Linked DNA regions of Homo sapiens. The protein of the gene in region 5 purifies or fractionates together with the protein of the main gene of each other region. This does not show direct contact. Each region holds a gene or a part of one and is shown on either strand. Other genes may lie near its edges.

Region 1 (3,500 bases), on a different chromosome or scaffold from region 5:
TTCTGATGTCAGGCTCTTGGCTGAATGATCTCTGGTAGGATCCCTGACAGCAGTTTGTATGGAAGATGGGCCCTACAAAACGGTCACCTTACTGAGACAACCAAGTCAGATGTTCCCCAATTACCTGTGGACAGGTCAGGCATATTCTGAGTCTAATTTCACTCCACAGGCCTAATACCTTGGAGCCAGAAAGCTTCCAGGTAAAAAGTCTGAAGGGGGCCTCCTCATGTCATTAGATGGACTCCTGCATCTCCAGAAGATTTTCCACACCAGGAAAGATCAAAGCACCAAGGCAATTCTTCCTGGCTTCTTGGGACAACCCTAGGCTTTGGCATGAGTGGTCTGGAAGCCTTTGCTTTAGTTACAATGCCTATACACTCCTGGAACTGTTTTGCAGGGCTTGTCTTCCAGCACAATTCCTCCTCCAAGCCTTACTGTAGCTACAGCCCATCAGTCCTGTCTAGTGACAACCAAGAAACTAAGAACTATGTACTCACGTTCACCTCCCCAGAGTCATTTTCCTTCAGGACAAAGCTCAGGGCCTTGTCACTGGGCCCTGCCAGGAGCCGCAGCCGCAGGGGCTGCTCATCATCCAACAGCTTCCGCAAGTACACTGTGAAGGGGAAGTAATGATCAGAGACAGGGCCAGCTGCTCAGCCCCTGCATGCTCAGGTGCATGCGTATATACCCTCACATAGGGCAGGGTGGGGTGGGAAGCCCACCTTGGCCGTGACGCTCAGCGCGCTCAAAGAGTGCAAACTTGCGGGGGTCATCCACCACCAAGAACTTTCGCAGCAGGGCCTCAATGACTTCACGTGCCCTTGTGCGTGACAGCACATGCAGGTGCTTGACAGCATCCTTGGGCAGGTAAAAGGAAGTGCGGCGCCTGACACTTGTGCCCCGTCCTGGGCCCCGCCGGGCATCCTGCAAGGAGGGTGGCTTCTTGCTGGAGGGCACAGAGACAGGGCGCACCAGCTTCAGCTGAACCTTGATGAAGCCTGTGTAAGAACCGTCCTTGTTCTAAAGAAATAGAGAAACCAAACCTTGATAATAGGTTCCAGGTGAGATGTCAGTCTACTTGGGGCTAGGCTGGGTATGCACAAATTACTGCTTGCGCCCACCCAAGATAACCTCAGTTGTGACCCTCTGAGTATCAGGCACATAGCTGGGTACCTGCTCCTCCCCACGCCCCCTTCCTGAGCAGTCAACTCACCAAGCTCATGAAGAGGTTGCTGTTGATCTGGGCATTGTACTCCTTGATCTTCTGCTCAATCTCAGCTTGAGAAAGGTCAGGTGTCTCCCACTCCACAGGCTCGTCCTGCAAGATGGGCCAGCATGGACACAGGGCCCTTGAGGAACCCAGGGCTTCTCTGAAAAATGGCCTCTGGGGCAGTCTTTGGAAACTGACTGCCTTTGGCCCCCTGTCCCTGATGTACATATACATAGCTGGTGCCCACCCTGAACCCACCACTGCTCCTGGTTTTGCATGCTCTGGGTGGATAAGGGAAAGACAGAATCATTTGGCTTCTCTCTGCTGCCTGCCTAGGGCCTCAGCACTGAATGTAGCCTTAAGGATACCACAGAAGCAGGGGCAACTGAAGGCACATGGCCAGGGGCCAGGAACAGCTGAGGGACTCTGAAGAGGGACTCTCATTTAAAGTAAAATCAGGCTGGGTGTGGTGGCTCACATCTGCAATCCCAGCATTTTGGGAGGCTAAGGTAGGAGGATCACTTGATCCTCAGGAGTTTGAGACCAGCTTGGGCAACATAGCAAGACCTCATCTCTACTAAAAAAAGAAAAAAAAAAATTAGCCAGGTGTGGTGGTGTGCCTGTAGTCCCAACTGTTCAGGAGGCTGAGGTGGGAGGATCGTTTGAGCCCGGGAGATTGCAGCTACAGTAAGCTATTATCGTGTCACTGCACTCCAGCCTGGGGAACTGAGTGAGACCCTGCTTCAAAACACAAAAAACAAAAACAGGCTGGGCACGTTGGCTCACGCCTGTAATTCTAGCACTTTGGGAGGCCGAGGCGGGTGGATCACCTGAGGTCAGGAGTTTGAGACCAGCCTGACCAACATGGAGAAACCCCGTCTCTACTAAAAATACAAAATTAGCCAGGCGTGGTGGCACATGCCTGTAATCCCAGCTACTTAGGAGGCTGAGGCAGGAGAATTGCTCAAACTCGGGAGGTGGAGGTTGCAGTGAACTGAGATCGTGCCATCGCACTCCAGCCTGGGCAACAAGAGCGAAACTCGGTCTCAAAAAAAAAAAAAATCAGTAAAATCACACCTCAATTGCACATTCTGATCACAGCACCCTAGTTGAGTTGGAGTGAGGGTTTGTCCTGGAGAAGGCAGCCCATTTTTCTCCTCTGCCCCGGCACGGGGCCATGACCCACTGCAGGGTGAGAGGAGTGGAGAGTGGTGCACATCAGTAGTCCAGCCACCAGTGGACAGAGTAGTACTTGGAGCCAGTTCTCCATGTCTCACACATAGTGAGAAAAATCACTGTGACATGATGTTTAACCTTGACCCAAGCTGCATAAAAGGCAGCTTTAGGCCAGGCTCCAATCTGCCAGAGGTACACAGGCAGCTTCCTGGTGGGTTTCTGCACCTGCCTGTGCTGTCTGGAGATTTGGCCCAAAGATTTTTTTTTTTTTTGAGACGAAGCCTCACTCTGTCGCCCAGGCTGTAGTGCAGTGGCTGGATCTTGGCTCACTGCAAGTTCTGCCTCCTGGGTTCAAGCGATTCTCCTGCCTCAGACTCCCGAGTAGCTGGGACTACAGGCGCGTGCCACAACAACACCCGGCTAATTTTTGTATTTTTAGTAGAGATGGGATTTCACCACATTGGCCAGGTTGGTCTTGAACTCCTGACCTCAAGTGATCCGCCTGCCTTCACCTCCCAAAGTGCTGGGATTACAGGCGTGAACCATCGTACCCGACCCAGAGATTTTTAACTCGACCACTCACTCCCCACCTCATCTAGGGACTGGATTCTTGCCGGAAGGGTGGAGTGTGGGACAGGGCAGCCAGGGCTCTGAACCGACTTTCTTCTCCCAGACTCCCTTGGCCCCACTGCATCAGCCTTACTTCCTGTTGACGTCAGATAGGCCCTAGTTAGAATGCGAGTGTCACAGACACAGCTAAGCTCAGCGCTGACCAATACTTTGTCCCAGAAGAATTCCCACAAGGTTTCCTGTAGAATGATCTTGTGCCTAGCCCAGGAGAGCCAGGGTTCTCCCTGACTCCGCCCTGGAGTCCCCTTAAGCACTTAAACCATCTGATGGGGACAAATGGAGAGGACAGATGAGGGAGCAGGGTGGAGCGTTTTAGCAGAATGCTCCTTACCCAGAACCCGCTGCTATTCTGCAGCCAGCAAGGATGTGGGGCTAAGAACTAAGGCCAGGGCCTTACAGGAAAAAGGTAAAGGGGGAGGGGTGGGAATTTAAGCTCATTTTCTTCCCCAAGTATCCAAAGGTCTCCTGGATGGAGAAGAGCACT
Region 2 (3,500 bases), on a different chromosome or scaffold from region 5:
GAAATAAAAAATGTTAAACGTAAACTCTACACACTAGAGTCAGCTTTCCTTAGTCAGTATTTACAGAACCCTAGCACAATTATTAAGAAGAGAAGCAGGAAAATAATTACTCCAGCCTTAATAAAAAGCTGAAATTGGACAGCACTGGCTTACAGGAAGAACTTTAGGGGCTATCTACTCACCCAACTCTAAGAAGGAAAAGTGGAAATTACTGAGAAAATCAATAACAAAGGCATTTGCTAGCCCCTGAGAGTGATGTCTTAAAAACTTTAGAGGACAGTCTCTTTTCTTCCCATGAGGGTGGGAGGAAAGGGGGATGGATGGGTCCGTAGGGCAGACAGGACTGAACTGAGGAGGAGTAAAAAGTAAAATAGCCTGAAGCAACCTGTATGAGGAAAATTATTTCAATTGTAAAAAGGCCTAATTTATTACCTATTCATGAGAATATTTATTAACAATTTATTATGTTTATTATCATACTAGGAACTGGTATGTAGTGAAAACGAAAATGTGGATCTAGGACAGAGGTTCGCAATTGTTTTCTGTAAGAGGCCATGATATGGTTTGGCTCTATGTCCCTACCCAAATCTCATCTCAAATTGTAACCCCCAGGGAGGGACCTGGTGGGAGGTGATTGGATCATGAGGGCGGCTTCCTCCATGCTGTTCTCATGACAGTGAGGGAGTTCTCATGAGAGCTGATGGTTTTAAAAGTGTCTGGCAGCTCCCCCTTCTCTCTCTCTCCTGCTGCCTTGTGAAGAAAACACTTGCTTCCCCTTTGCCTTGTGCCATGACTGTAAGTCTCCTGAGGCTTTCCCAGCCATGCAGAACTGTGAGTCAATTAAACCTCCTTTGTTTATAAATTACTCAGTCTCAGGTGGTATCTTTATAGCAGTGTGAAAATGAACTAATACAGGCCAAACAGGAAGTACATAGGCACTGCTGGTCATACAGCCTCTGTCCCAACTACTCAACTCTGCCATTATAGCACAAAGGCAGCCACAGAAATGTGTAATTGAATGAGCATGGTGGTGTCCCAATAAAACTTTATTTATAAATACTGAAATTTGAATTTCATATAATTTCCACATCACAAAATATCATTTGATTTTTTTCAACCATTAAAAAAAAACATGAAATCTGTTCTTAGCTTGCAGTCCATACAAAAACAACCAGTAGGCCACATTGGCCCACAGACTGTAGTTTGCCAACCCCTGGTCTAGGAGAAAGAAGGCTGCCTGATTAGGGCAAATAGAGACCTCTCCTAGTTCACCAGAAACCTACATCATCTCTCATCTCAAGTAGACGCTATGGAGCAATTGGATTCAAGAATCCTGGCCAAGCTATATCTCCCTATTTTAAGATGGATAAGAAAAGAGGCAGACCATGTCATGGCTTTAACAGAAGCTACTCAAAAATCTGGAATATCATGTGACTCAATTAAATTCCACCTCAACTTAAAGCATTTTCTCTTTCAAGCAGGACTTACAAATATCATCCTATCAACTAATAACACAAGTTGGTCCTGATATCTTCTCAGGGACAAAGAAGGTTTAAACTGAAAAACTGTAACTAAGTTGTTATTAAAGAATCACTGAGCATGGCTGGTTGCGGTGGCTCACGCCTGTGATCCCAGCACTTTGGGAAGCTGAGGTGGGCAGATCACCTAAGGTCAGGAGTTCAAGACCAGCCTGGCCAACTTGGTGAAACCCTGTCTCTACTAAAAATACAAAAATTAGCTGGGCGTGGTGGTGGGTGCCTGTAATCCCAGCTACTAGGGAGGCTGAGGCACAGGAATCGCTTGAACCCGGGAGGCAAAGGTTGCAGTGAGCTGAGATTGTGCCACTGCACTCCAGCCTGGGCAACAGTGCGAGACTCCATCTCAAAAAAAAAAAAAGAATCACTGAGCACAAGAGATAGCTACTGAAAAACAGGACACTGTAGGACTACCAGAAAGAACTGTCCTCTTAGATTGTGAACCAATCAAGAGAAATGGTGTAAGTATGTAAAGAATTTTCACTTTCTTCTTCAGAGTAGTTTAACCATGGTCTTTATAAGAAAACTTACCCTTGTGAATGAAGAAAGGTGTACAAAAATTTAATCTCAGAATAGTAAATTAATATAGTAATATTCTACATTTACTATAGAATAGTCCCCCCTTATCCATGGGGGATATGATCTAAGACACCCAGTGGATGTCTGAAACTGCAGATAGCATCAAGCCCTGTACATACCAGGTTTGTGGACCTGATAACTGAGATACCTTCTAAGTGACTAACAGGTGAACAGCACATGTAGTATGGATAAACTGGATAAAGGGGTAATTCACATCCTGAGTGAGATGGTGTGAGACTTCATCATGCTACTCAGAACATGCAACTTAAAACTTACGAATCGCTTATTTCTGGAATTTTCCATTTAACATTTTCAGATTGAGGAAAGCAAAATTGAGAATAAGGGGGGACTACTATATAAAATTCTCTAGCTATTTATTTAATTCAACTTTACCTATTTCATAGCTCTATGAACTTGGATAAGGTGATTATTTTCTCCAACCCTCATTTTCCAGCTCTGTAAATGGATAACACCTTCCCTCAAAAGGGATCAGGAGACCAAAATATATTAAAGTCATGTGTAGGATATGAAACAATACATAAATGCAACAGGGAAAACTTTTGTTTATGTAGGGTTAAAAATAATCATTCCTTTATGAACAGGACCTAAGACATATAGGATCACATTTATCTTTTTAATTTATCATTAACAACCAAAAGAAACGTGAAACTTACCTGCTAACAGCATGCCCAACATTTGTGACAGCTGCTGTCATGGTTTCTGTGGCAAGGCTTTCAGCAAAGCTGGCACCCTCCTGTCCGATCCCACTGTCGGCTGCCAGGCTGGTACTGCTCAGCTCTCGCTCAGCTTTTTCAATGGCTTCAGCAACTATCTTCTCAGCAAGCACTGCCTTCTTATCAAGATTAACATGAATCTGAGGGACACTGAGATGAAAAATCCTAGATTTCTGATAGCGGCTGCTAAATTTTGGATTAGAAGCTGGCTTACTACTGGCGAGAGAACCCTGTCTGAAAAAGTGCTGAGATGAATTTCCAGTGCAATTGTGGAGTTCTTTAAGGTCACAGTATCTGCAAGCTTGACCTGTAAGAGGTGACAACTTTTCTGCATAAGTGACCCTGTCTGCTGATTTTGTGGTCTCAGACACTCGGAACACTGTAGATCCTAGAGTTAGCTCTAGAGTGTCATCCACTACTTTTTTGGCATACTGTTCTACAGCTTGAACAACATTGTCTCCACAACCATATCCATTTAAACTGCCAGTGCTGTGGTAAAACCTGTGATTTTGTGAGGAAGGCTGAAGAGACTTAGGCAATTCTGGTGTAACGTGACACTCATTATCTTCTTCATATCCAGATTTTTCAAACAAGCAAGAATCTGTTAAGGATTTTGGTAGGCCAACTAGAGAGGCTGTCAACTCTTCCTTAG
Region 3 (3,500 bases), on a different chromosome or scaffold from region 5:
GAGTTTCTGTCTTCAACTCTGACTTCTACCCTGTAGTCTAGTGTCCTGTATCCCACTGCAAAGTTCTTTCTTCTTGGATGTCTGGTAGGCACCTCAGATTTAACGTGCCCAGCCCCCACACACACACAAAACTTGCAGTTAGTTTTTTCCATTCTAATAAATGACATTACCATCTGTCCCCTTGCTTAAGTTAAACCTTTGGAGTCATCCCTGATTGTTCTTTCGTGTCACATGGCTAATTGATTAATTAGCAAGTTCCATGGGCTCAAATTTAAAGACATATTTAATGTAATCCGGCTGCTGTTTTCCATCTCTACTACTTCCAGCTTAGACCAAGCCAACATCTTCTCTCATCTGGACCACTGCATTAGCTTTCCAGCTGATCTCACAGCTTTCAGTCTTGCCCCACCCGCCAACACTACAGCCAAAGCAGTCCTTCAAAAATGTAAATCAGAGTATGTCTGAAGCTTGCTTGAAAACTTTCCAGTGGCTTCTCATCACACTGAGGAAAAAGTCCAAACTCCTTTCCCTGGCCAGGAAGGTCCTCCATGGCCCTACATTTCAGCCTCTGATCCCCAGCCTGATAACTCACATGCCAGAGTTATTCTTGTTGGTCCCTCTTCCTGGCACGCTCCTCCTTAGCCTTTCACATGGCTGGCCTCTCTCACATAGTCCCTCTTCATATTCTGAGACCACTTTCTGAAGTTACCTCATTTCTCGCTTCACTTGTATTTCCATGACCTTGTTTTATTTTTCATTATAGTACTATGGCTATTGAAATTATATACCTGTCTGTTCTTGCCTACTAGAATAGCATAAGGCTTCATGAGAACAAGGACTGTGTCTGTCTTGTTTCCCACTATAGCCCAGAGACATACTACATTGGACGTATATATTAAGTACTAAATAAATGTTCACAGAAAGCATGAATTTAAAAATTAAGGATAGATTATGAGAAAAGAAAAAAGTTCTAGAGCCAAGACATTGCTTTTTTTTTTTTTTTTTTTTTTTTTTTTTTTTTTTTGGGACAGAGTATTATCTCTCTGTTGCCCGGGCTGGAGTACAGTGATGCAATCGCCACTCACTGCACGCAACCTCCGCCTCCTGGGTTCAAGTGATTCTTATGCCTAAACCACCCAAATAGCTGGGATTATAGACCCACACTGCCACGCCCAGCTAATTTTTGTATTTTTAGTAGTGATGGGGTTTCGCCATGTTGGCTAGGCTGACGGTCTCAAAGTCCTGACCCCAATTGACCTGCCTGCCTCGGCCTCCCAAAGTGCTGGGATTATGGGCCTGAGCCACCACACCCGGCCAGCACTGCTTTCTAATAGAAAAAGAAACAACTTGGAAGAAATTAGAAGAAATGCAGTATGTTGAACCAAAACATAGCAAAGGATTATTAGAAGGGCAGCTGATGCTGGATAAAGGAAAAGATATTATGCATCAACCACCTCATAGTGCTGGAGCAGTAGTTTGAGGGTTGAAGGAACAGTGAGGATTTAACTAGAAATATAATCTTAGTACTCAAGACCTAGAAAAAAGAGAATGATAGTCTGCCACCAGATTGGTTTCCCTTAACTCTTTAATTTGTATCTTCAAATTCTCTCTCACCTAGCCTGGCCAACATAATGAAACCCCATCTCTACTAAAAATACAAAAATTAGCCGGGCATGGTGGCGCATGCCTGTAATCCCAGCTACGTGGGAGGCTGAGGTAGGAGAATCGCTTGAACCTGGGAGGAGGTGGTTGTAGTGAGCCAAGATCACACCACTGCACTCCAGCCTGGGTGACAGAGCGAGACTCCGTCTAAAAAAAAAAAATTCTCTCTCACTCTTTCACTGCGCACTTGAACTCTGTTCTGGCCTGTCCTGGACTGGGTAAATGACAAGTAGGCAAAAACCAGGACTTGGAGTATAGACCAGGATATGGCAAACTACAGCCACAAGCCAAATCCAGCCTGCCACCTGTTTTTGATAGCCTAAAAGCTAAGAATGGTTTTTACAGTTTTAAATCATTGGAAAGCAAAATATTTCATGATAATGTGAAAATTATGTGAACTTAAATTTTAGTGTCCATAAATAGTTTATTGGAACACACCTATCCTTTTTTGTTTACATATTATCTGTGCCTGCTCTCGTGCTACAATAGTATCATTGAGGAGCTGCGACACAGATGGTCTGTCTGACCCACAAAGCCTACAATCTTTACTATCTTGCTCTTTATAGAAAAAGTTTTCCAGCATCAGGTATACACTTGGCAAATGACTCTTCCTTTCGTATCCTTGGAGGATGATTGATGAAGGAATCTGATATAGCCAAAGATATGTAGGCCATTTTTCTTTGTGATAAAAATTATTTCTTCTCTTTTTACAGCAATTCAATTAAACCCCAGCTATATCAGGGCAATATTGAGGAGAGCAGAGTTGTATGAGAAGACGGACAAGCTAGATGAAGCCCTGGAAGACTATAAATCTATATTAGAAAAAGATCCATCAATACATCAAGCAAGAGAAGCTTGTATGGTAAAACCTAAAATTTTAAAAATATTTTTCCTTCTATTCTTTGTGTTGCTACCCAGTGAGTCCTAAATAATCCTTTCAGACACAATTAAATTCCATTTCTGTGCTTTTGAGGAGCTTATCAAGATATATGGGAGGCCAGGCGCAGTGGCTCTTGCCTGTAATCCCAGCACTTTAGGAGGCCAAGGAGGAGAGATCACTTGAGGCCAGGAGCTCGAGACCAGCCTGGCCAACACAACAAAACCCCATCTCTTCTAAAAATACAAAAAATTAGCCGGGTGTGGTCGTACACATCTGTAATCCTAGCTACTCGGGAGGCAGGAGAATTGCTTGAACCCAGAAGGCAGAGGTTGCAGTGAGCTGAGATCATGCCACTACACTGCAGCCTGGGCAACAGAGAGGATCATTGAGCCCAGGAGTTGGAGGCTGCAGTGAGCTGTGACTACATCACTGCATTCCATCATGGGCAACAGAGTAAGACTTTGTATCTTAAAAACAAACCAACAGGCTGGGTGCAGTGGCTCACGCCTGTACTCCCAGCACTTTGGGAGGCCGAGGAGGGCGGATCACCTGAGGTCGGGAGTTCGAGACCAGCCTGACCAACATGGAGAAACCCTGTCTCTACTAAAAATACAAAATTAGCTGGGTGTGGTGGCACATGCCTGTAATCCCAGCTACTCGAGAGGCTGAGGCAGGAGAATCGCTTGAACCCAGGAGGTGGAGGTTGCAGTGAGCTGAGATTGCGCCACTGCACTCCAGTCTGGGCGACAGTGTGAGACTCTGTCTTAAAAAAACAAAAAATACAAATGAATTTAAAAAAAAGTTAAAAATACAAATATAGCACTGTAAACATCTGATATGTATCCTTTCAAACTTTTTTCTGTATATATTTATTTGTTAAATTTGTATTGATGCCCTCCTTTAGTGTAGACTTTCTATTAAGAACTGGAAACAGAGCCAAACAAAACTTTTTTTTTTT
Region 4 (3,500 bases), on a different chromosome or scaffold from region 5:
AACATACTTATCTTCTGAACCACTAACGAGGTAAGTAAAATCATGGCTGAATTTTGGGGAGAAAGGAAAAGCAAATAAAATGTGTGTGTGTATATGTTTAAAGGTTTCCTTTATCAGTGCTTCCTACTTTGTGATACCTAAAATAACACTTGAAGGGTCTTGTTGAATATGTAGACCCATGGTCTCACTCTAGATGTTCTAAATGTGTACGTGTGATGTAGTGGCCTGGCACTTGTATTTGCATCAAAGCTCTAAGTAACTGTGATGTTAGTTAATCCACGTTGGGAGGAATGATGATTTAAGGTGTGAAAGACAGGAGCAGAATACTTTACCAATTGAATTAATTAATGTATAATTCAAGAAAAAAGAACTGGTAAGAAAACGGCAAAAGAAGAGGGCTAGAAAGAAGAAAAGGTAGCTAACCCTATTTCAGGAGAGTGTCCAGAACCCAAATTAGAAATTTAAATAATAATGATATGTAAAGTTTTGAATACAAGACCCTGTGCTGTGGGGTGTTAAAATGCTTTCTTAGAATCCTAAAAGGTTCCTTCCTTTCCTAAAAGGTTCAAGACAATGGGGCAGGGAGGGGAGTGGCGGGATGAGCCGTAAGCCCCCTCTTAAAAGCGTAAACAAAGGTACAAAAGCAAAAACTCTAGAGATGAGAGTCTTCATAATCTTGGCTCTACAACCATGACTTTAGGCCAATCACTTAATTTTCTGAGTCTTGGTTTCTTCATTTGCAGAACAGGGTCAATTCGAATTCTATATACTATATAGGTGGACAAGGTACGTATTGCATGATAATAAACTACTACTTGCAAAAGTGAAAAGAACCCCATTAAACATAAGGCATAGACCAATGGAAAAATGGAACTAGGGGAGAAATGTCCTGATCTCTTTTGGGAACATCTCATTGCCAATTTACCTGAAACTTGCTTTGATCTGGCTGCTGCTATTGACGTAACCCTTATACTTCATGGATAGTGACAAATCTCTCAAATCATATAGTCTGATTCTGGAGTCATTTGAGGTTACCAATATCTAAAAGTAGATCAAATGAAAAGTTAAAAATATCATCTTTTAGTACAAGCTAAGCTACAACCCAAAAAGGGTGTTACACACATACAAACTAATATACCTCAAAACTAGAAGAAAAGCGGTATTCCACAACAAAGAGAATACATTTTTTTGCCAAGATATTAAGAACTTTCAAGAATCTACATATAGTATGGAGAGAGATGGTTTTGAATACTGTAGTACCTTATTTTCTCCAGGTAAAGGCTCAATGCCAGTAATTTTTCTTCCAACCTTGTTGCGCCCTCTAGTAGATCGGACATGTATTTGTGTATGGTATTTCAAATGCTAAAAATAAACCATACATTTAACATATTAGAATTAGGAGCATGTGTGGTGGCTCGTATCTGTAACTCTAGCTACTCAGGAGGCTGAGGCAGGAGGACTGCTTGAGCCCAAGAGTTCGAGGCTGTAGTGAGCAACAATTGCACCACTACGCTCTAACTTGGGTGACAGAATGAGACTTTGTCTCTATAAAAAAATTCTTTTTGCTTGGGCGTGGTGGCTCACGCCTATAATCCCAGCACTTTGGTAGGCTGAGGCAGGTTAATCACTTGAAGTCAGGAGTTCGAGACCAGCCTGGCCAACACGTTGAAATCCCATCTCTACCAAAAAATACAAAAATTAGCTGAGTGTGGTGGCACGTGCCTATAGTCCCAGCTACTCAGGAGGCTGAGGCACAAGAATCACTTGAATCCAGGAGGTAGAGGTTGTAGTGAGCCGAGATCGCTCCACTGCACTCCATCCTGGGCAACAGAGTGAGACTCCATCTCAAAAAAAAATTTTTTTTAAATTAGAATTAGAAGACATCTCAAAAGTCATCTGTTCCAACTCTTAAGACAGACATGGTATTATTTGTCTCTATTTAGAGAAAATGCAGTTAAAGCCCAGAGGGGATAAGCAACTTGTCCAAAACCATGAAAGTGTTTACTAAGTATACAATTATATAATTTACAAAAAACAATCATTTACCTCTGTATCATAGAAAATACATCTGCCATCATATGTCCCAATCACTGCATATTTGCCATTCTGACAGAAATTTGCAGCTGTGATCAATTTTGTCTGACCATCTACTTCATTCCACAAAGCCACTTTTTTGTCAGGTATGTTCCAAAGGCGGAGCTTTCCATCCAAAGACCCACTTAGAAAATACCTGTCATCCTAAAGAGGTGGCAACAGAGAAAGTTTTCATTTTACCACATCAAGAAAAAACTCATTAGCAAATCAAATCAGTAAGTCTATTAGAATAGTTTAAAAATGTAGATTTCAGGGCCAGGTGCGGTGGCTCACGCCTATAATCCTAGCACTTTGGGGGAGGCCAAGGCAGTGGATCACAAGGTCAAGAGATCGACACTATCCTGGCCAATATGGTGAAACCTCGTCTCTAGTAAAAATATAAAAATTAGCTGGGCATGGTGGTGCGCGGCTGTAGTCCCAGCTACTCGGGAGGCTGAGGCAGGAGAATCGCTTGAACCCAGGAGGTGGAGGTTGCAGTGAGCCAAGATCGCACCACTGTACTCCAGCCTGGCAACAGAGTGAGACTCCGTCTCAAAAAAAAAAAAAAAAAAAAAAAAAAAAAGATTTCATTTAAAAATTTTTATTCTTTAAGCAAGCATTATTTTATGCACTGAAAGCAGTAACAACAATAAGAAACCTCACTATTCACTTTGGAGAAATAAAATTCTAATTATCATATCCTTAAACTGCTGTTTTGCAAGATATGGATGTCAATAGATAAAGTGTTTGAGTGTGTATTGCATGGAAGAAGGTTCTGTGATCAAATAAGTTTGAGAAATTCTGGGTTACAAAAAGTTAAACATGATTCTCAGTTAACCTGCATTTTGAATCTCCAAACAGGATAAAGTAGGTAGCACTTTTCAACATATTTAACCACAGACTTTTTTTGGGGGGGCGTGTTTACGGGAGGTGCTAGACCTTTCAGGAACATGCTATGGGAAACACTATCCTATATCATACCTTCCTCTGGGATACATGTAACACTTGGATAAAGAGTAACATCAGTTAGTGGCCCCCAAAACCAGTCATTTTTGGAACTCTAACACCATGTCAACAGAGAATTACTTCATCATTCAAATTCTGCTCTCAAATCAGCGGTTCTCAACCTGCGGCAATCTGACCTTGCAGGGGACATCTAGCATTATCTGGAGACATTTTGGTTGTCAAAACTGGTGGGAGGATCAGGATGCTACCAGTATTTAGTGTGTAGAGACCAGGGATGCTGCTAAATATCCTATAACGCACAGCCTACTCTCCCCCGTGTAACAAAGAATGTCAATAGTACTAGGATTGAGAAATCTCCTTTAAACTAAATCAGTCCTACCACTAAGCTTGTTTTGTTTTTGGCAACATAAGAATTTTTCTTTCTTTCTTTCTTTTTTTTTTTTTTTGGTGATGGGGTCTCA
Region 5 (3,500 bases):
GTTGTCTTAACCTTGATAGCAGTTAATGGACTTCTCAGACACACCTTATGAATAAGACTTTATTACATAATTATTTCTTACATTTATTTACCCGTGTTTATCTTTTTGAAAGTGTAGAGATATATCTTAGAAATAATCTAAAGTTAGGGAAATAATTTCTATAATGCCATGTACATATTTTGTGTAACTGTTGATTGATTCTTTGTATAGTCTGTTATATTGGACTCATGTTACATAAATTTAGCATGACTTACAACCACATGGAACCTTAGAAAACTTAAAAGACGAGAAATTATAAATGCTTAAAAATTGCTCACGCCTGTAATCCCAGCACTTTGGGAGGCTGAGACGGGCGGATCTTGAGGTCAGGAGATCGAGACCATCCTGGATAACACGGTGAAACCCCGTCTCTACTAAAAATACAAAAAAATTAGCCGGGCATGGTGGCAGGCGCCTGTAGTCCCAGCTACTCGGGAGGCTGAGGCAGGAGAATGGCGTGAACCTGGGAGGCAGAGCTTGCAGTGAGCCGAGATTGTACCGCTGCACTCCAGCCTGGGCGACAGAGCAAGACTCCGTCTCAAAAAAAAAAAAAAAAAAACTTAAAAATTTTGAATGTTATTGAGACTGTAGAATAAATTTTAGAACTCAAGAGGCTATATGGTTTCCTTGTGTACTTTTGTTTTCTTAGAAGATTTAAATAAATTCATAAACTCTGAAATAGATGTTTATTTAAAATACAATTTTGAAAAATTAATTATATTAAAACAATATATGGGCTGGGTGCTGTGGCTTACGCCTGTAATCCTAGCACTTCGGGAGGCTGAGGAGGGCGGATCTCTTGAGCCCAGGAATTCTATACCAGCCTGGGCAAAATGACGAAAACCCTTTCTCTACAAAAAAATACAAAAATTAGCTGGGCATGGTGGCATGTGGCTATAGTCTTAGCTATTTAGGAGCCTGAAGTGGGAGGATTGCCTGAGCCTAGGGAGGTTGAGGCTACAGTGAGCTGAGATTGCGCCACTGCACTGCAGCGCAGCCTCAGCCACAGAGTGAGACCCTGTTTTAAAAAACAAAAAACAGATGGTAGTGAGGTTTTAAGTTACTGAGTATTTCTCCTTTAAATATCTCAGTTGTATAATTTTAAATCAGAAAACACTAAAATGAAGCCTAAATTCATAGTTTTAATAACTTATATTTAATCTGAGCTTATAGGCATTATAGTTAACGTTGGCAAAGTTTTGAAAATTTTCACAAGCTGAGTTTAGAAAGGGCAAAATCATAGATTCATATTTAATTTTTAATTGTAATTGTTTATTTTGTTGGTTGTGCAAAACTTAGTAAATTAGAAAGACAGACAATTTAAAAATACTTGGGATCCATTAAGTTGATTCTTAAACATTCCAGTGTTTGGTTTCTTGAACCCTTCTTGGTTTTTTTTAAATTTGCATATTTGTGAAGTAGTAGGAATGATACTATTGCCAGATACGGTTTAAGGCAAATCCCAGACTTAGTATAATTTAATCTGTAACTGTTTCAATGTATGTCTTTCAGACATGCAGGAGACAATATAATATATCCTTTTTTTCTTATTTAGTAATGCTACAGCCCTTTGACTATGATCCGAATGAAAAGAGTAAACACAAGTTTATGGTACAGACAATTTTTGCTCCACCAAACACTTCAGATATGGAAGCTGTGGTAAGTATAGAAGAAGAATTTGTTTTGGGAAGTGGAGTTTAAACTGTGGGTGTTGTTTAGCAGTCAGTAGAAAAACTTAATTTCTAAAAACTAAAAGTTAAATTTAGGTTTTTAAAAAACTGCCAATTTCTTCATTATAGATAATCCTAACTTAAAGAATGAAAGAATTTTTAAATAGTATTTTTTTTTAGAAACAATTTAGAAATGCTGCTACTGGCCTGGTGCAGTGGCTCACACCTGTAATCCCAGCCCTTTGGGAGGCCAAGATGGGAGTATCTCAAGCCCAGGAGTTCGAGACCAGCTCAGGCGACATGACAAGACCCTGTCTCTACAAAAACAAACAAACAAACAAACAAAAAACAAAAAAAACCACCACAACAAAAATGAGCTGGGTATAGTGTTGGACGCCTGTAGTCCCAGCTACCCAGGAGGCATGGGAGGATTGATTGCTTGAGCCCAGGAGGGGCGACTGCACTCCAGCCTGGGAAACAGAATGAGACCAACTGGAAAAAAAGAAAGAAATGCTAAGAAGAAAGTCCTATGGTTGCTAGTAATATCATCGTGATTTTAATGGATGGTGATAGTAACTAGGATTATATAAAGGTTCTGTGACATTAGCCGATAACAATGGCAGGGTGATCAATAAAGAGTGCACCAGTGTGTTTCAGCCAAGCCAGGCAGCTTCACTCATCTTTTAGCTGTCCCGTGAGGTGAAACTTACTTACCATGATCATACCTCCTATGTCTCATGTTTGGTTTTGTTTATTTTTAGTGGAAAGAGGCAAAACCTGATGAATTAATGGATTCCAAATTGAGATGCGTATTTGAAATGCCCAATGAAAATGATAAATTGGTAAGTAGGAGAATGTAAAAAAAATTGGGAGCTGTTGAGCTCTCAGTTCCTTTGATTAATTTTGCTTTTATTTTTGACCTTTGAGGTATGTGTGATATGGCTATTACACTTCATAAGACTCAGTGGTTAAGTTTTAAAAAACTTGGTATGCCTTTTTTTTTTTTTTTTTTAAAGTAACATTTTGTTTATCCAAGAAGAAAGAAAGACTCACTTTTAGGTCAAGACTGCATCCTGGAGAAGAATCATTTAAGTCTACCAGATTTTTTGTGACGTAAACCACTGCAGGTTCTTTTTTAGAATGAGATGTGTATACATAATTTAAAAATACATATAAATTGCTTTTTGGCCACTATGTACCGGCAGTTTGGGGATAAATTCACTTACATGGACAGTTTATTCCAGGTTTAGTTATTCCTAGGTATTTTGCTCACTTTTGTTTTTAGTCAAATCCATCTGATTGTATTCTTTAGTAAATAATTATTATGTTGCTTACTCATTAGTGTAAGTCTAATACAATTTGGGGGACTGAGGGATGTATTTGTTTATTCAAAAACAAACAAAAAATAGTCTGTGAATGTACCGAGTGGGTTGTAGTCACTTACCTTGTCCATTTCCCTGTCTGGATTGCAAATTTGAATCTTTTCCTATGGTGAGAGAGACTTGAAAGATAAATTTTTCTGTGTGTGTATGTGACTTAATACATACAATAATATGGATAAATAGAATGGTGTGGCACAATTTGGTTACAATCTGACATGACTACTGCCTTAATCTAGTGGCCATTTGCTCTATTGAAAAGTAAACATGCAGATTAAATATGTGGGCTCAGTTATTGTGTTCCTCTTTCAGGATAAGCAGAAATGAAAAGGTCTCTGGTAATTAGGTGTTGACCAAATTATATTTTGAATTTTTAAAATGCCTCTTTTAAGTGATTTTTGAGGTATTTGCC
Region 6 (4,156 bases), on a different chromosome or scaffold from region 5:
GGGATCCCAGCAGGCTCTCTGTGGGGACTGGGTTCTCTAGCCTCCAGCCAGTCATCCCCATCAGGCACAGACATCAGCAGCACTTCCTCCACACCACAGCAGGTGTGGGGCGGGTCTCTCAGTCTGCAAACTATGAAGGTCCCTTCCTCCTCCCCCTCCTCCTCCTCTTCCTCTAACTCCTTCCTTACTTTTGTCACCCGATATTCCATCTTCACAATAGCCAAAGATGCAGCTTTTATCCACACCACCTCCATCTTATAGATCAGAAACCCGAAGCCTCAAAGCTGCCCAGGGTCAGTCAGTGAATTGAGAGCAGCCAGGCCAGGGGCCAGGCGCCCCCACCCAGCTAGCTGACCCAACTGGTCCCCTTGTTGGGCAGGGACTCCACCTTCCTGGAAACTGGGGCCAGGGCCAGGGGCCACCTCACCAGTTCTTGACCCACGTCTGGTTTCTCTGCCCACGAACTTCCCCAAGGCCCTGTCAGTTAGCCAGGATGGTCCCCGAAGCCAGCATTCTGGTCTTCTGCAATTGGCTGCCCTGCTCTGGGACTGGAAGTATAAAGGGATTAGACCCAGCTAGGAACACCTCATCCCACAACCTGAGGCCCAGACCTGGCTTCAGAATCCTTCTCAACACAGCTCACTAGGTAAGCTTTATCTATCAAATTAAGATGTGCTTGGAAACGATGAGAAGGTACTTACGTGCAGCAGGCATTAGCACCTGCTCATGGTCACAACTGTCCAGCAGTGGCCTAGCTGTCTCTGCAAATGGCAAGCACCCCTTCTCAGAATGTGTGACGGTGTGTCAGCCAAGAATGGCCCCCCACAGCTAGGGCACTGCATAGCCCAACAGGGGTGGAGAAGGGGAGGGCCAGAGAAGGCTTGAGGTCCCTTCCGGTGGCAAAATTCAGGTGGACAATGCTCAGGTGGACTCACTCCACTTCCACAGATGAGGACCACACCTCCCTCACCCAAGCATCCTGGCCTGGAAAGTTTCCACCATTGCAAAGCTCACAAAGAGGCTCAGAGAGGGTGTGCAATCTGCTCCCAGTTGCTCAGCACAGCTAGGAAACAGGCAGTGTTGAACAAGGACCTCCAGGCCAGTCTCAGATGGACTTGGACCATGCCTATTCCCTCACCCCACAACAAAAGCTCTCCCCACCAGAGAGCTCATGGTGTGTGCGCGCCTTTACAGTGAATCAGAGCCACTCTAAGGGAGAGTGAGAGGAAGCCCTGGGGTTCCTCCCCTCCCCACTCCACCCTATCTCGGTGCCTTCTTCTGGGGAACCAGAAACACCCTCCAACAATAAAGAGGCCCTTTGAGACGGGGCAGCCCACTGTCACCTGCTAGGACCTGGGAACCCTACCCTGCAAAGAAACTGCGGATCCCCACGAAGGTGGGGAGGAAACCTCCACCCAAGAGGCAGCCAGGGAAAACAGCAGAGATCCCTAGAAGCCCATGTTGGGCTCCCGTTTTGGGCTCTGAGTGAGCCTGTATTGAGAGGGGTCCGGTGGCTGGTTGGGCCATGGCTCCAGGAGTCCCCGCGCTGCCTCACCTTCTGTGCCTGGCTGATCATCTTCCGCACCACCTCTTTGATGTGGGCCTGCCCGTCTATGGGGGGCTGCATGTAGACGCTAGCCCGGGTCACGCCGCGGTAGGCGATGGTGTCGGGCCAGCCCAGGTCCAGCTGCGGGATGGAGCGGTCCGACTTCTGGGGCCAGTACTCCAGGGAGGGCAGCGGCTCGGCCTCGATGGGGACCCCATCCGCCCCGCTGGCTTCCTCGCCGTCGCCGACCCCATTGTCCTCGGGCCCCTGAGAGGGGCCCGTGCCCCGAGGGTCCTCAGAGCCCGGGTCGTACACCTCGATGGTCTCCAGGATGCGCTTGAGCTCCAGCTCCGAGAGGAAGTCTCGGATGTTCTCCCGCTTGAGCACCTCGTAGAAGGCGTCCCGGCCGCGGGCCACCAGGGCCTCCAGCGCCAGCCGCTGCTCCTCGCTGTAGAAGAACTCAGGCTTGGACTCGCTGGAGCGCCAGTTCACATGGTTGTCGTCCAGACACTGCACCTGAGAGAAGGCCATGGCGCCGCCTGCCCGGGCACTGCTGCCGGGGGTGGGTGGGCAAGGTCCAGCTCCTAGCTCCGGCCCAGCTGGGGCACCGCGCGCTCGGGGGCCTCTCCGCGGCCTCTGCTTCTCTGCCCATGAGCAATCTGCGGGAAAGACCTGATGAGCCCGGCTCGGCGGGGAGGGCGGGCCGCGCGGGGAGGGGCGGCGGGGGCGGGGCCGGGAACTCAGGTGGGCGTGGGAAGGACGGGGCTGGGGCTGGGGCTGGGAAGATGAGGTGGGGGCACTGGACTGGGATGGGAAGAAAGTAAGGGATCGGAACAGCGGTGAGGGAGCGGTGGGCCACGTCCCAGGGCTCAGCGTGCCTCTACGTGCAGGGAACCCATATCCCAGATTTCCGGAGCTGCCTGAAGTCCTCGCAACTTCTGAGGGAAACTAGGGCAGCCGGGGAACTTCCCAGTAGCTTCTTAGAGTGGGAGGCGGCCCCGGCACAGAGGCGCCCCGCAAACCGAGGGCTTCCGGGTAAGGGAGGGGTCTTAAAATTTCCGGGTGCCGGCAACCCAGGAGGCCTGCCCGGAGGAGGCTGGGGCTCTGGGAGGGGTCCAGGAGACCCAGAAACGCGGTTGCGGGGCGGCGACGCCCCGCGAGACCCGGGATCCGGGGGGCGCGGCCGGGACTTGCTTACCGAGCGGGCGCTGGCGGAGCGGGGCGCACACGCGGCGGCTGCGGCGGCGGCGCGAGGCTGGGCGGGGGCGCGCCGGTGACTCAGGGCCGCCCCGCTTACCCCGCCGCCGCCACCTGCGGTCACGTGCCGCCCGGGGCGGGGCCGGAAGCTGATTCACCCCTCGACAGACAGACAGACCTGGGGCGGACGCACTGCCCACGGTCCCCTGGTGCCCGAATTCCGAAAATATCAGAGGCCTAAGCCCAAGAGCTCCTGGAACACCCATCCCAGAGAGGGACAGTGTTCTCCCTGAGGTCACACAGCGGGTCAACAGCCTTGGCACCCCCCTGTGCCCCCAGGGTCTGTTGGTGATCCTGGATCAACCCTGGCTGTGCCCAGTTTCGCCGGCGTGGCGGGAAGTCCGTGCGGCTGTATAGATACCCAGCTGTCCAGTTGTGGAAACAGGTCTAGGGTACTGGGCTGGGAGCCCCCAGGCAGGGATAGGGCACTGACTGACCCAAACTCAGGGCTTTCCTGAGCAGATACCCAGTTCTCAGTCCTAAGCCCTGATCCCCTCTGGGAGGGGTCCCCGGACTGCTTCTGCGTGGCGGGCAGCACCCGACCTGAACCCTAGGGCAGGGAGGGGCCAAGAGGGCCGCTGTGGGCTGGGGTCAGGCCCAGCTCTCTGCTGAGCGTCCCCTGGGGTTGGGACCCTGGTTATGGGGAGCGTGGAGACCACATCTGAAGGCAGGCTTTGAGGGTGGGACAGCAAAGCCCATTAAATCTGGCCCAACAAACAGCCCCCACCCCATCGCGTGCCGCAGCCAGTCTGCCCGGCACCAGGCCCAGCCCTTCCTCCCATCCCCCATACTTGCTCTGGATCTGGATGGGGCTGGTTTGGGTCCCGTAAGGATGCTGCTTCCGTAGGCTGGTGACATCTCTAGGCCTTGTGCCCTCAAACCCCCCCCCTCCAAGGCCTTCTCCACCATTCATGGCCCATCAGGACTCCTTGCCTCTGAGTCCACTGCCCTGGGCAATGACTAGCCTCCTAGGCCCAGCATCCTTGTGGTCCCCATCACTGACCCCTCAAGCATGAAGTCCTACACTCTGCCATATAGCCCCCCAAGGGCTTTATGCTACTGAACATAGTGGCCCCTGGGGAACAGGCACACATATTTGCATCCTCCTCCTGCCCCAGGGCCAGAGAGGGGAGGTGATCCCAGCGGGGGAGCCCTGCCTTGAGGGTCCTGAAGACCCATTTATAGCCCCTCTGCTACTGTGGATCCCCTGTAAGACCTTCTCTGAGCCGCCTCAGCTTCTCCCTGTGTTCTTACCAATGCACAGAGGCTGGAGAGTTCAGGAAGGGAGTCCAAGGCCTCACTCCCACCTCCACCACCCCAACACTTCTGCAGTTGATGAGCAGGAAGGTTGTA
Region 7 (3,500 bases), on a different chromosome or scaffold from region 5:
AAATCTGTCTTAGATACTAATTTTTTAATATAAGCTTTTAATGTATTGTTAACAATTTGGTCACATTATATTACTGGGTTTTGTGTTTCTAAATTATTTTAGTAGTTATAACTGGATAACTTATTTTCTTTTTCTTCTGTATTATAGATCTTAGTGTTTTTGTATCGGTCAAAAATTTATCTGACTGAATAATTAGAAATAATTTAGGGAAGAATCACTTAAAATAACAGTGGCAAAAATACTGTAGAATGTCTTGATTGGCCATATAATGTTACTCGTTTTTCCTAAATGTTTAGTCATTTTTTACTGTTCCTTTAACTACAGATTACATTTTTTTGTTTGTTTGTTTTTACTGTCTTCACAAATGCTTCCAAATATGGCTGCTTCCAACCCTGAGTTTAACCCAGGAACAATACTGCAAACTGCTCAATTCAGTAGTGAGTGGGCTATATGCATACCTACTCATCAAAGCTATTATTTAAAGAATTATTATTTTTTTAGCACTCTTAGCATTTCAAGATAATGCATGCACTCAGTTCCCAAAGTGTATTATTGCTTCTTGAAACTCCTCTTTGATCTGCTGAAAGTAATGATGGCTACCATCTTAAACAGACCCTAAGGTTGAGAGTAAACATATAAATTTGAAAGCTGTTTATTGATATATTGATTATCAGTGGTCACTTACCTATCAGTGAACTTTGGTAGTGACACATACAGACTGGTATTTATAACGTGCAGGCAAAATAAGTACTGTGACCTTGAAAGATTTTTTTTTTTTTTTGAGACTTGCACTCAAAAGATTTTTTTTTTGAGTCTTGCACTGTCACCCAGGCTAGAGTGCAGTGGCAAGATCTCGGCTCAGCCTCCCAAGTAGCTGGGATTACAGGCACCCACTACCACACCCAGCTAATTTTTATGTTTTTAGTAGAGACAGGGTTTCGATATGTTTGCCAGGCTGGTCTCAAATTCCTGGCCTCAAGTGATCTGCCCACCTAGGCCTCCCAAAGTGCTGGGATTACAGACGTGAGCTACCACACCTGGCCTTGAAAGATTATTTTCTATTTCTGACCCATTATATACCACCCATACTGTAGTGCTTGTATTTTCTCTCACACATACTGTATTTTTTAACTTGAGAGAGTGTATTTGGTAGACTAGATGACAGTCTTTTTGAGACAGAGTTTTGCTCTTGTTGCCCAGGCTGAAGTGCAGTGGCGCAATCTTGGCTCACTGCAACCTCCGCCTCCTGGGTTCAAGGAATTCTCCTGCCTCATCCTCCCTAGTAGTTGGGAATACAGGCATGCGCCACCATGCCTGGCTAATTTTTTGTATTTTTAGTAGAGACAGGGTTTCACTGTGTTAGCCAGGATGGTCTGGATCTCCTGACCTCGTGATCCGCCCACCTCGGCCTCCCAAAGGGCTGGGATTACAGGCGTGAGCCACCACGCCCAGCCAGGTGACAGTCTTAAACTATTTGCTTAAATTACAGAATTATCTTTTCTTGATTTATCTTTGTTTTATTTGAAGGATCTTTAGAAGATAATGAATAGTATAATATTACTTTACCAGTTTACCATAATTTTAAATTGCTAATGTCTTTTGTTCCTCAGCTTCAGAATTTGAAATATAACTGCCCAGCTGTAACTATATAAGAAAATATGTAGATAAGAAATTTTCATTTTGAGTTTTTAGTATATCAAGCATGTGGTATTGTACCTAGGAAGTTTTATTGTTTTTTTGTTGTTGTTTTGTTCTTTTGCTTTTTTTTTTAAAAAAAACCAAAAAACCATTACTGGAAATAGGATTTGGTGAGGGCCAGAAAGATGTATGATGTGATATGCTTATTAAAAGTTACTACTACATGACGAGTCTGTTGGTGGCTCATGCCTGTAATCCCAGCATTTTGGGAGGCTGAGGCAGGAAGTTCACTTGAGCCCAGGAGTTCATAACCAGTCTGGGTGACATAGTGACACCCAATCTCTACAAAAGATAAAAAACTAGCCGGGCATGGTGGTGCACACTTGTGGTCCCAGCTACTCTGGAGGCTGAGGTAGGAAGATCACTTGAGCCTAGGAGCTCAAGGCTGCAGTGAGCCATAATTGCGTCCCGGCACTCTGCCTGGGCAACAGAGGGAGACCCTGTCTCAAAAAAAAAAAAAAAAAAAGAGTAAGATATAGCTAAAAGCACCCTACTATGTGCCAGCTCATTTCTGTTTGTTTGGTTTTGTATTTCAAAGCAAAAATCACTATACATGTGATTTCTGGTTTCTTTTTACTCAACCTTAACTATGTTATTGGTTTGATTTTAACCGAAGATTTTCCTGTGTGTAAATGTTCTTTGTTGCAGCATAACTACAAGTAGTCTCATTTTTAATGTGTTGCCAAATATTTACCATATGGATTATTTACTTTATAGATTGTTTATTTACCTTATAGATTATTATTTCCTTTGTAGATCATTATCTTATAGAGCCATTGGCACCAGAATTAGAGTTTTGGGGGGTTTTTTGGTCCTAGAACTTGTTAGTGAATTACAGTCACACATTTCTTAATGGCAGGGATATGTTCTAAGAAAAATATGTCATTAGGCAGTTTTGCCATTGTGTGAATGTCATAGAATGTATTTACACAAACCTAGATGGTATAGTATATACTACACATCTGGGCCATACAATGTAACCTCTTGCTCCTAGGCTACAAACTTGTATAGCATATTACCATACTCAACAATTGTAACACAATGGTAAGTATTTGTGTATCTAAACATAGAAAAGGTACAGTAAAAATATGGTATCATAATCTTACAGGACCGCTGTTGTTTATGCGGTCTTGTTGATGAAAACATCATTATGTAGTGCATGACTATAATGGAATACTTTTGTATTGATACCTAAAAAAAACTTTTGCATAAGTTACTGCCTGACAAAAATTCTTAGCTATCAATTCTAATTTCAGTCTTGACTTAGGCCTCCTGAAAGATTTCTCAGATTCAACTACAGAAGGCCCCATACAGTGTATGATTTGCAAAAGCCTATATAAAATACGCAATATCTGGTTGGATAACCTCTAAAACAAAAGTTTTTAACAGGAAAGGCAGCCCAAAGTTCCAGGGAGAAACATGCATTTGCAAAGCAAGGGCCACGCTTAGAAAATAAAAGTTTTTAAGGGTGAGAACTGCCATGAGAGAAAAAGCACAGAGTTTCTGGAAGATAACTGATAGAAAAAGGGCTGAACTGCCCTTTTTGTTTTGTTCATTTAATTTAAGAAATGGTACCAGAATGCCAAGATTATGTGTCCCTTCCTTCCAACAGCCATCTCTTCACTGTGCGCTGTTAGTAGCAAGAGGGCAAGGAGACATATGGTGATGACTCAGACTACCACTACTGGATAAGGTAGATAGTTCTTTAGTGGCAAGAGAGAGTTCTGGTACTCTTGGTAGATGTATCAAGTATTGGACTGGAACTCCTCTTTCAGGAGGACCCAGAAGCTGTATTTTCTTGC

Evidence for each region.
Region 1: the proteins of VAPA (region 5) and RASSF1 purify together in Homo sapiens (co-immunoprecipitation; 4 studies listed by BioGRID and IntAct, with this or other methods). This does not show direct contact.
Region 2: the proteins of VAPA (region 5) and AKAP11 purify together in Homo sapiens (co-immunoprecipitation; 4 studies listed by BioGRID and IntAct, with this or other methods). This does not show direct contact.
Region 3: the proteins of VAPA (region 5) and TTC1 purify together in Homo sapiens (affinity purification with mass spectrometry; 7 studies listed by BioGRID and IntAct, with this or other methods). This does not show direct contact.
Region 4: the proteins of VAPA (region 5) and WDR44 purify together in Homo sapiens (affinity purification with mass spectrometry; 4 studies listed by BioGRID and IntAct, with this or other methods). This does not show direct contact.
Region 6: the proteins of VAPA (region 5) and FAM83G purify together in Homo sapiens (co-immunoprecipitation; 4 studies listed by BioGRID and IntAct, with this or other methods). This does not show direct contact.
Region 7: the proteins of VAPA (region 5) and PTPN12 purify together in Homo sapiens (affinity purification with mass spectrometry; 4 studies listed by BioGRID and IntAct, with this or other methods). This does not show direct contact.

What each region holds. Positions count from the first base shown.
Region 1 is NC_000003.12:50,330,837-50,334,336, forward strand, and holds part of RASSF1 (ras association domain-containing protein 1), read right to left. Parts: intron 1,319-3,500; coding exon 1,214-1,318; intron 1,021-1,213; coding exon 723-1,020; intron 614-722; coding exon 498-613; intron 1-497. UniProt on the Homo sapiens protein: Potential tumor suppressor. Required for death receptor-dependent apoptosis. Mediates activation of STK3/MST2 and STK4/MST1 during Fas-induced apoptosis by preventing their dephosphorylation.
Region 2 is NC_000013.11:42,303,152-42,306,651, reverse strand, and holds part of AKAP11 (A-kinase anchor protein 11), read right to left. Parts: coding exon 2,789-3,500; intron 1-2,788. UniProt on the Homo sapiens protein: Binds to type II regulatory subunits of protein kinase A and anchors/targets them.
Region 3 is NC_000005.10:160,047,139-160,050,638, forward strand, and holds part of TTC1 (tetratricopeptide repeat protein 1), read left to right. Parts: intron 1-2,375; coding exon 2,376-2,524; intron 2,525-3,500.
Region 4 is NC_000023.11:118,440,106-118,443,605, reverse strand, and holds part of WDR44 (WD repeat-containing protein 44), read right to left. Parts: intron 2,239-3,500; coding exon 2,047-2,238; intron 1,363-2,046; coding exon 1,261-1,362; intron 1,042-1,260; coding exon 926-1,041; intron 47-925; coding exon 1-46. UniProt on the Homo sapiens protein: Downstream effector for Rab11 which regulates Rab11 intracellular membrane trafficking functions such as endocytic recycling, intracellular ciliogenesis and protein export.
Region 5 is NC_000018.10:9,934,516-9,938,015, forward strand, and holds part of VAPA (vesicle-associated membrane protein-associated protein A), read left to right. Parts: intron 1-1,594; coding exon 1,595-1,698; intron 1,699-2,470; coding exon 2,471-2,551; intron 2,552-3,500. UniProt on the Homo sapiens protein: Endoplasmic reticulum (ER)-anchored protein that mediates the formation of contact sites between the ER and endosomes via interaction with FFAT motif-containing proteins such as STARD3 or WDR44.
Region 6 is NC_000017.11:19,001,965-19,006,120, forward strand, and holds the start of FAM83G (protein FAM83G), read right to left. Parts: upstream 2,801-4,156; 5' UTR 2,745-2,800; intron 2,206-2,744; 5' UTR 2,078-2,205; coding exon 1,556-2,077; intron 1-1,555. UniProt on the Homo sapiens protein: Substrate for type I BMP receptor kinase involved in regulation of some target genes of the BMP signaling pathway. Also regulates the expression of several non-BMP target genes, suggesting a role in other signaling pathways.
Region 7 is NC_000007.14:77,627,795-77,631,294, forward strand, and holds part of PTPN12 (tyrosine-protein phosphatase non-receptor type 12), read left to right. Parts: intron 1-3,500. UniProt on the Homo sapiens protein: Dephosphorylates a range of proteins, and thereby regulates cellular signaling cascades. Dephosphorylates cellular tyrosine kinases, such as ERBB2 and PTK2B/PYK2, and thereby regulates signaling via ERBB2 and PTK2B/PYK2.